Linked DNA regions of Homo sapiens. The protein of the gene in region 2 interacts with the protein of the main gene of each other region in a pairwise test. Each region holds a gene or a part of one and is shown on either strand. Other genes may lie near its edges.

Evidence for each region.
Region 1: the proteins of LEMD3 (region 2) and SMAD1 interact in binary tests that used the Homo sapiens proteins (3 or more experiments, as listed by UniProt).

Annotation. Positions count from the first base shown.
Region 1 is NC_000004.12:145,512,589-145,516,415, reverse strand, and holds part of SMAD1 (mothers against decapentaplegic homolog 1), read right to left. Parts: exon of another isoform or gene 2,934-3,827; intron 1,979-2,933; 5' UTR 1,803-1,978; coding exon 1,403-1,802; intron 1-1,402. UniProt on the Homo sapiens protein: Transcriptional modulator that plays a role in various cellular processes, including embryonic development, cell differentiation, and tissue homeostasis.
Region 2 is NC_000012.12:65,239,030-65,242,856, reverse strand, and holds part of LEMD3 (inner nuclear membrane protein Man1), read right to left. Parts: intron 2,929-3,827; coding exon 2,827-2,928; intron 2,722-2,826; coding exon 2,619-2,721; intron 1,949-2,618; coding exon 1,770-1,948; intron 1-1,769.

The DNA.
Region 1 (3,827 bases), on a different chromosome or scaffold from region 2:
TCCCCAAATGAAATCAACGAAATTCCAATAAATTCCCAAAGTGTTTTTCATAGGACTTAACAAGGTAATCCTAAAGTATATAATCTAGAAATCACAAAAACGTAATGTTGGATGAACATAAGTTGTACAAAGAAACTCCAATATTATGTAACATTTTTAAATATATAAAATATTACATATTGTCATGGACTCATACATATGTAATAACAGTATAAAAACATGCATGAGAATGATAAGCGTCAGATTCAGAACAGTGGTTACCAAAGGGAGCAGAATCAGAGGAGCAAAAACAGGGGTTCCAGTTTACACGTAATCTTTTATTTCTTAAAATGAGTAGGGGATACAGAGATGTTTGTTATACTACTGGTCTTTAAAATCTTTTTTTAAAATATGTCTTAAATATTCCACAAAAATACAGAATGCCTTTTATTTGAAAACCATGTTATTACATGATCTAGTTTAGTAATTCCTAAACACCAATCCAATAGCTACATCAGTAACACCTGAAGTACTTGTTAGAAACAAAGATTACCAGGCTATCCCAGGATCAGGATTTCTGGGAGGAGAGCCATGTGATTCTAATATACAGCCTTAGTAACCCAGGAACTATTAACAGCCAATCCATCAACAAAATTGGTCCCAATCGACAATGAGACATTTAAGTGCTTGAATATCTAATCACTTTCCAATGATCCAACTCTCTAGAATGTAGATTCTAACTTGAGGGCAAAACCGTATAAATTTTAAAATATATCCTTTACCATACCCTCCCAAAAGACTATACATGTAAAAACTGGGTATATTTTATAAAGTAATAGCATCAAATGATTCCATAGAAGGATATAATTCCTTCATATTCACCATAGGAAATATGCCACAGCAAAATTCCGCCAGAGATGATAAAAAGTGCTGTTCTTAAGTTCAGAATGGTTTAAGTCACTGGCAACTACCCTCATGATGTACTTCCCTTAAGCATATAGACAGCAATAATGCATTTCTTTCCTAATTTTCTTCCCTTAGAATACAATTCATAGCTAATTTTATCTAGAGAAATGCAGAGAACCATGTGAGACATAAAAAATAAATTTAGAAAGAAAACAATTTATTAAAAATTAGAGGTATTAGTACTGCAATGACAATTGTCATAGCCTGCTCCCAAGACATAATGTTAACTAGAGATGACTAAGCTGTTAAAATGTATGAAACACTCAGGGGCTTTCTCTCTTGCATTCACACAGACACACACACACACACACACACACACACACACACACACACACAGTTTCCCCAAATATTTTTAAATTACAACTAAAAACAAGCAAAGGGATTATTTTCATGTTCTAAACAACACAAATCTGGTACTGGGCACACAAAGCACATCAACATAAAATAACTCACTTACCAGGGCTTTCTACTCTCTTATAGTGGTAGGGATTGATGCAGACCTCCTTCTGCTTGGAACCAAAAGGAAACTCACAGCATTCCAGTGGTTTTAGTTCATGGTGGCTCTGAAGATCGGGCCAGCGCCACACACGGCAGTAAATGACATGAGGCAGTCCCTTCCGGTGGGAGACTTGCAGCCTGCCATCCAGAGAGCGGGGAATGGTGACACAGTTACTCGGTTGCCCTGGGCAGCTCAAGGCCTTTTCCAGTTCCTCCATGGCACCTTTCTTTTTCTTCAGTTTTTTCACCAAAGCATCAACAGCTTTCTCTGCCCATTTTTCTTCTTCATCGCCCTGTTTCCACCCAAGAAGTCTCTTCACAGCTGGACTTGTAAAGGAAAATAAACTTGTCACATTCATAATGACAGCACTAGTTATACTCCTTGGATATGGTGAAATAAAGCTGTCTCCAAATGCAAAAGGACAGCAGAAGAGATTTGTTTATTTACAGAGAAGTCTCTTTAACTTCTTAGTTTGAAGTCCAGAAGAGTAGAAATTACCATTCCTAGTGTTTAAAAAAGTAACCCAGTCAGCACCTACAAAACAAAAAAAGAATGGTTAGAATCATCTTTACCATACAACCACATTTATTAAGTAATCACCATGTGCTAGGTACTATTTTAAGTGCTTTTATGTAATACAGTATGCTGTGGACTGAATTGTGACCCCTAAAATTCATATGCGGAAGCCCTAACTCTCAGTATGACTATATTTGGAGATGGAGCCTCTAAGAAAGTAATTAAAGTTAAGTAAGGTCATCAGGGTGGGGCCCTAACCTGATAGGACTGGTGGTCTTAAGATTGCTATCTCCCTCCTCCAGCCTCTATGCACACACACTGAGGGTACTGCAAGAAGGTGATCATCTGCAAGCCAGGAAGAGAGCCCTCACCAGAGCCTGTATTGTCCAGAACCTTGATCTTGGACTTTCCAGACTCCAGAACAAAGAGAAAATCTATTTCTGTTATTTAAGCCACCCAGTCTATGATATTTTATTATGGCAACCAAAGCAGACTAATATATAGCATTTAATGCTTTTCACAATCCTTTGAGTTAGGTAATACAATTGCTGCCACTTTACAGATGAGTAAACTGAGAAGCAGTTTAAAAAGTAAGCCACTGTTAGCAAAAGCTCTGGGATAAAAGCAACAAAGTTAAAAAGCCCAAGTTCTCAAAAGATATTGTAATATTTTAGATTTAGATTCATTTATAACCTCTAAAAATATATTTCAAAACACCTCAATCAACAAAAACTGAAAGCAACAGGGAGAAAAAAATAGTCTAATATCTCTGTTTTTTTGGTTTGTTCTACAAATATTTCTTAGGCTAAAAGAAAATTCCTCTTATATAAATGTAGTAATATTTTAGGGTATTTCTTCAGTGAACAAGCCTGTGTCTATGGGCTACAGGACAAATAGGATAGGAAATACATCTCCTGCTTTAAAAATGTTGCTATTTATTGACATAAAAGGAATAAAGCACATGGACACATACTGTACCAAATTCTTTAGCCAAGTTGCCTCATTTAAACTGTTTACTCTTTAGCACATGAAAACATAAAATGTGAAAAAGGTTAAGGAGGTTAACTTTGTACAAACCCTGGCTAAACTGGAGTAGCACGTATCAGACCAACCTCCTTCCAAACAAACAAGCCAGAAAACAAACAAACAAAAGCCCAGCTTTTTAAAGGCATCAAAGAGGAACCAAGGCACTCAGGACTTGAGGGGGCCAAGATCCTGGAGAGAGGGGAAATGCAATGAAGTGAGCTGAATATTCGTCACCACTCTTTCCAGGGATTTGCCAATAGCTATGCTATGAGCAGCAAAAGGTCTAGGAGCCGAGCAGAAAGAGGTAACTAAGAGGCTAAAAACTAAGCAGAGCTTCTAGTAGCCTCATAGCGCTGAGGAACCCCAAAATAACAACACAGCAACAAATGGAGTTGAGGGCCTGCTGAGGAGAAACCCTGGTAAATAGTCTAGGCTTTCAATGGAAGCTCCTGGAGGAATATGCCCCAGTCTAAGGGCAAAAATGAAACGGATCAGTCTTTACAACCAATCTAGAATCATCTTAATCCTAGCCTTGGTCTAGGTGATGGGTATTGCTCTCTAACAGCTTGCCAGAAGAAAAACAAATTCTCTGTAGAGGAAGACAACATCAACCTTAGCCACTACAATTTTAAATTCACAGTGTATGCAATGAACCAAAAGTTATCAAGCATACCAAGAAACAGGACCAAATGATCAAAACAAAACAGAATAGAAACAGACCTAACGGGTGACCCAGGTAATGGAGTTACCAGAAACAGACTTTAAAGTATTAATGATTACTATTTACTATGTCAAGGAAAGAGAAGACAAGGTTGAAGATTTTAACAGAGAACTGGAATCC
Region 2 (3,827 bases):
ACTCAACTGTTTTAAGGAGTAGAATAGGATGAGATCTGTCTTTTAAAACTACATATTTTAAAAATACATTGTTATGTGGAGACTCAGGTAAAAGCAGAAGTGAATGCAAGATGACCAGTTAGAAGGTTATTATTATATTATAGTTGTCTAAGAAGGAGAGGATAATGATGTGGGTAAGACAGGCCAACAGTGCAAGTGACAAGCGGATAGAATCAGGACATATTATGGAGTAGATATGACATGACCTGTTGAAAGGTTGGACAAAGAGGGATAAAGGAGAGATTAAGAATTATCCCTAAGTTTATGGCAGAATCAACTCAGGAAAGGTATCATTAACTAGACTAGGAACACTGAAGAGGATCAGGCTGGTGTACATGTTGAATCTGTGGTGCCCACCTCCTAGTACAGAAATATATAGTTGGGTACAAAAATCTGAAAACCAGACTTCATTCAAAATAAAAAATTTGGGAGTTATCCCAATATGGTAAATTAAGTCACAGCAAGACGATTATCTAGGGAGAAATGGCAGAGTGGGAAAAAAAAGATGGCCTTGAGAAACTCTAACACCTAGAGGTGAAGAAAAAGAGGATAATCTAGAAAAGGACTGAAGAAAAAGTCTGAGGTAGGAGAAAAAAAACAGAAGAAGGTGGCATCCCCAAATCCCAGTGAAGAAAGTTTCAAGGAGGGCTGAACTGTCAAACACTGTTAAGAGGTCAAGTAAAATAAGGAATTCTCTATTTTCAGTTTATAGGGAAACTGAAATGCATGCATCATTTAGAGGAAATAGTATAATCATTGGCAACATGAAAGCATCATTTTTTTAATTTAAGTTCTGGGATACATGTACAGGACATGCAGATTTGTTACATAGGTAAACGTGTGTCATAGTGGTTTGCTGCACCTATCAACTCAAACCCATCACCCAGGTATTAAGCCCTGCCTGCTTTAGCTGTTTACCCTGACAGAGCATCACTTTTATGCCATGTTTAAAGAAGCCTCTTATTCAAGCTTTTTCAAAGTGAAAATTAATTGGAGAATAAAAAAGGAGTGACTGGACTTTGTATTGCATGTCCAAAACAACTTACCTTTTCCACAAATACTATGTTTAGCAAATACTGACATACTTTTATAGGGAAAAAGTCATAATTTTCTGATGCATTGTTTTCTGCTTTTCTGTGTAGTAAAGGTTTGGGTACATATGACAGCCAATCTTCAAAACCCCCTATAAACTTACCCCTTTCTTATTTATACATGTTTTTGAAACTATGTAGGCATTAAGAAAAATATGGAAAGATACCCACAAAAGTTACTTGGCAGGAGGAATATATAAATAGAAAGGTCTTAGTAAGAGGAGGCAGGCAAAAACTGGAAAAAAAAGAGCAGTTAAAAAGTTATGACTTCACTTATATACATATATAGTTTATATATATTTTATTGTATATATAACATAAATTATGTGTCTTATTTACATAAAGAAATTAGATGAAAAGAATGCAGTTAATATATATAATACTAAGTTGCTTCATTAAGTGAAAAAGGCAAGATTCAAGGAATATTCATCTTTATTAAAGATAAACCATTTATGTTTGCATTAGCAAAGATAAAAGTGTGGAAGGATACATAAGAAGCTAACACTGATTCCTTCTACGAAACAGAACGAGAGAGTTTTGCCTTCATACATCTTTGAATTGTACTGTTTCACTTAACACATATTTGTCATTTTGAAAAATTAGAAGAAAATTACTTTTTTGATGTTTAAAAATACATACCTTGACCTTGCCATACTTTAGAAGGTATAACTAATATTTTGTCACAGGATGCAGAAGGCTGGATCCACCGCCAAACCAGAAAATCTGCACCACCTATTCTTCGTGTTTCCGTGCGAACTCTAGACTCATTAGCAGCAAGGAAGTCAACAGCTCTATCCCAGACTTTCTTCATTTTTTTCCTATCATGTGAACAAAATGGCAAATTTACTATCATCTTGGCTTGTCATCTTTTTGAAATATTAGTATCTGAGGTAATAGTTAACTCTAGCTGTTCTTACCACTACTCATGGAGTTTGTTCAAAGAAGATTTAGATGCCTATATCTCATCTCAGATTTTCTGAGTTTCAATTTCCAGAGCTAGAGCACAAACATCTGTATTTTTTTTCCCCAAAAGCTCCACTGGCTTTATGTGTTGCTAGGGTCAAGATGCTGCTTCAGGATATGGAATTATCTTTTATTTTCAAAAAGTTGCATTTTAGTTTTTACTTTAAAAGCTTCATTAATAATAAAGTTAGTACTTAAAAAACATTAGTAAAACACCAGCCACTGGCTGTCATCTATTTCTTTATCAAGATGAAATTAAAGGAAATAAGATGGAGACTAACAACAAAGAATCAAGAATGCCTAGGAATGAGAATGACTTAGAAATCCAGGTGTCACTCAAAATCAGGAGAATGGAAGAGAATTTAGAAAGAGAGTATAAAGTACAAAAACAAAGCAAAACCAAAAAAAACCTGTGCAGTAAGCAAGTCTAGTTGAGAAGGGTCACAGCTCTCAATATAATTTTCAATACTGCAGAAAGCACTTAAATTTTCTGATTTACTTGAACTCATAATGCTTTGAACACACCTGTCATGAGGCTGTATTAAGGAATCGCGTACATGTGGAATAGGCATGTAAGGTTGTAAATCTTTGTTTTCCTGGCAGGCTTCATTATGACTTCGTAAAACATCTAAAAATAAATAAAATTTACAAATGAATCAATCACTTGACATAATGTAGTTTAATCATGCAATGACTCTTCTAGAAATAGTTGAGATTCTTACAAATATCATACCTATAATCTTTACCACCATATCATACATCTGCCTTGTTTCCTCCTCTTCTTTTGTCCATCGATATTTCATGTAACGCAGAACGACACAAACCATCACTACACCTGTAATATTAATATACTTTGTATTTTAAAAATTGTGGTCAATATCATTCAATAATATTTCAGTGATTATTTTAACTGCCACAACGGAATGAACCTTCAAGACAGATGGCTGAATTAGCTATATAATTAAAACTACATAAAAAAATTTAATACTGAACATTTTCCAAAGATTCACTTTCTAGAAAAAAGCATTTCTTCCATTACACTGATAAGTGAACATTTAAATTCTAACTACTATTTAAAAATATATATATATAACTATGTTTCACAAACTTTTTTCCTTTGAAGCATAAAACGACTAGAAAAGTGAACCTCATGAGATTAAACATACTAAATCTTACTTTAAGTAAAATGAATTTTTCTTTTGTTGTTGTTGTTTTTGAGATAGGGTCTTACTCTGTCATCCAGGCTGGAGGGCAGTAGTGCAATCATGGCTAACTGCAGCCTCCAACTCCTGGGCTCAAGAAATCCTCCTACCTCAGCTTCCCAAGTAGCTGGGACTACAGGCACGTGCCACTATGCCTGTCTAATTTTAAAAATTTTTTTGTAGAGGTAGGGTCTATGCTTCCCAGGCTGGTCTTAAACTCCTGAGTGCAAGCAATCCTCCTGCCTCCCAAAGTGCTGGGATTACAGGTGTGAGCCACTAAAGCTGGCCAAAATGAATTATTTTTAAAGAAGAAAGAAAGAATGAAAAAACAACTCTCACCTAAATCCCTATTATCAATTAAAAAATGATAAAAATTTTAAATGTAGGTAAATTACATTTTAAAAACTAAATTTTAATAAACTTTATAACACTTTATTATTTAAAAATAAGCTCAATTTTTGTATTTTTCAATTCTACTTTCTAAAGTAGATTTCTATGTATATACTGACCACACTTGTTTTTCTGTGACAGT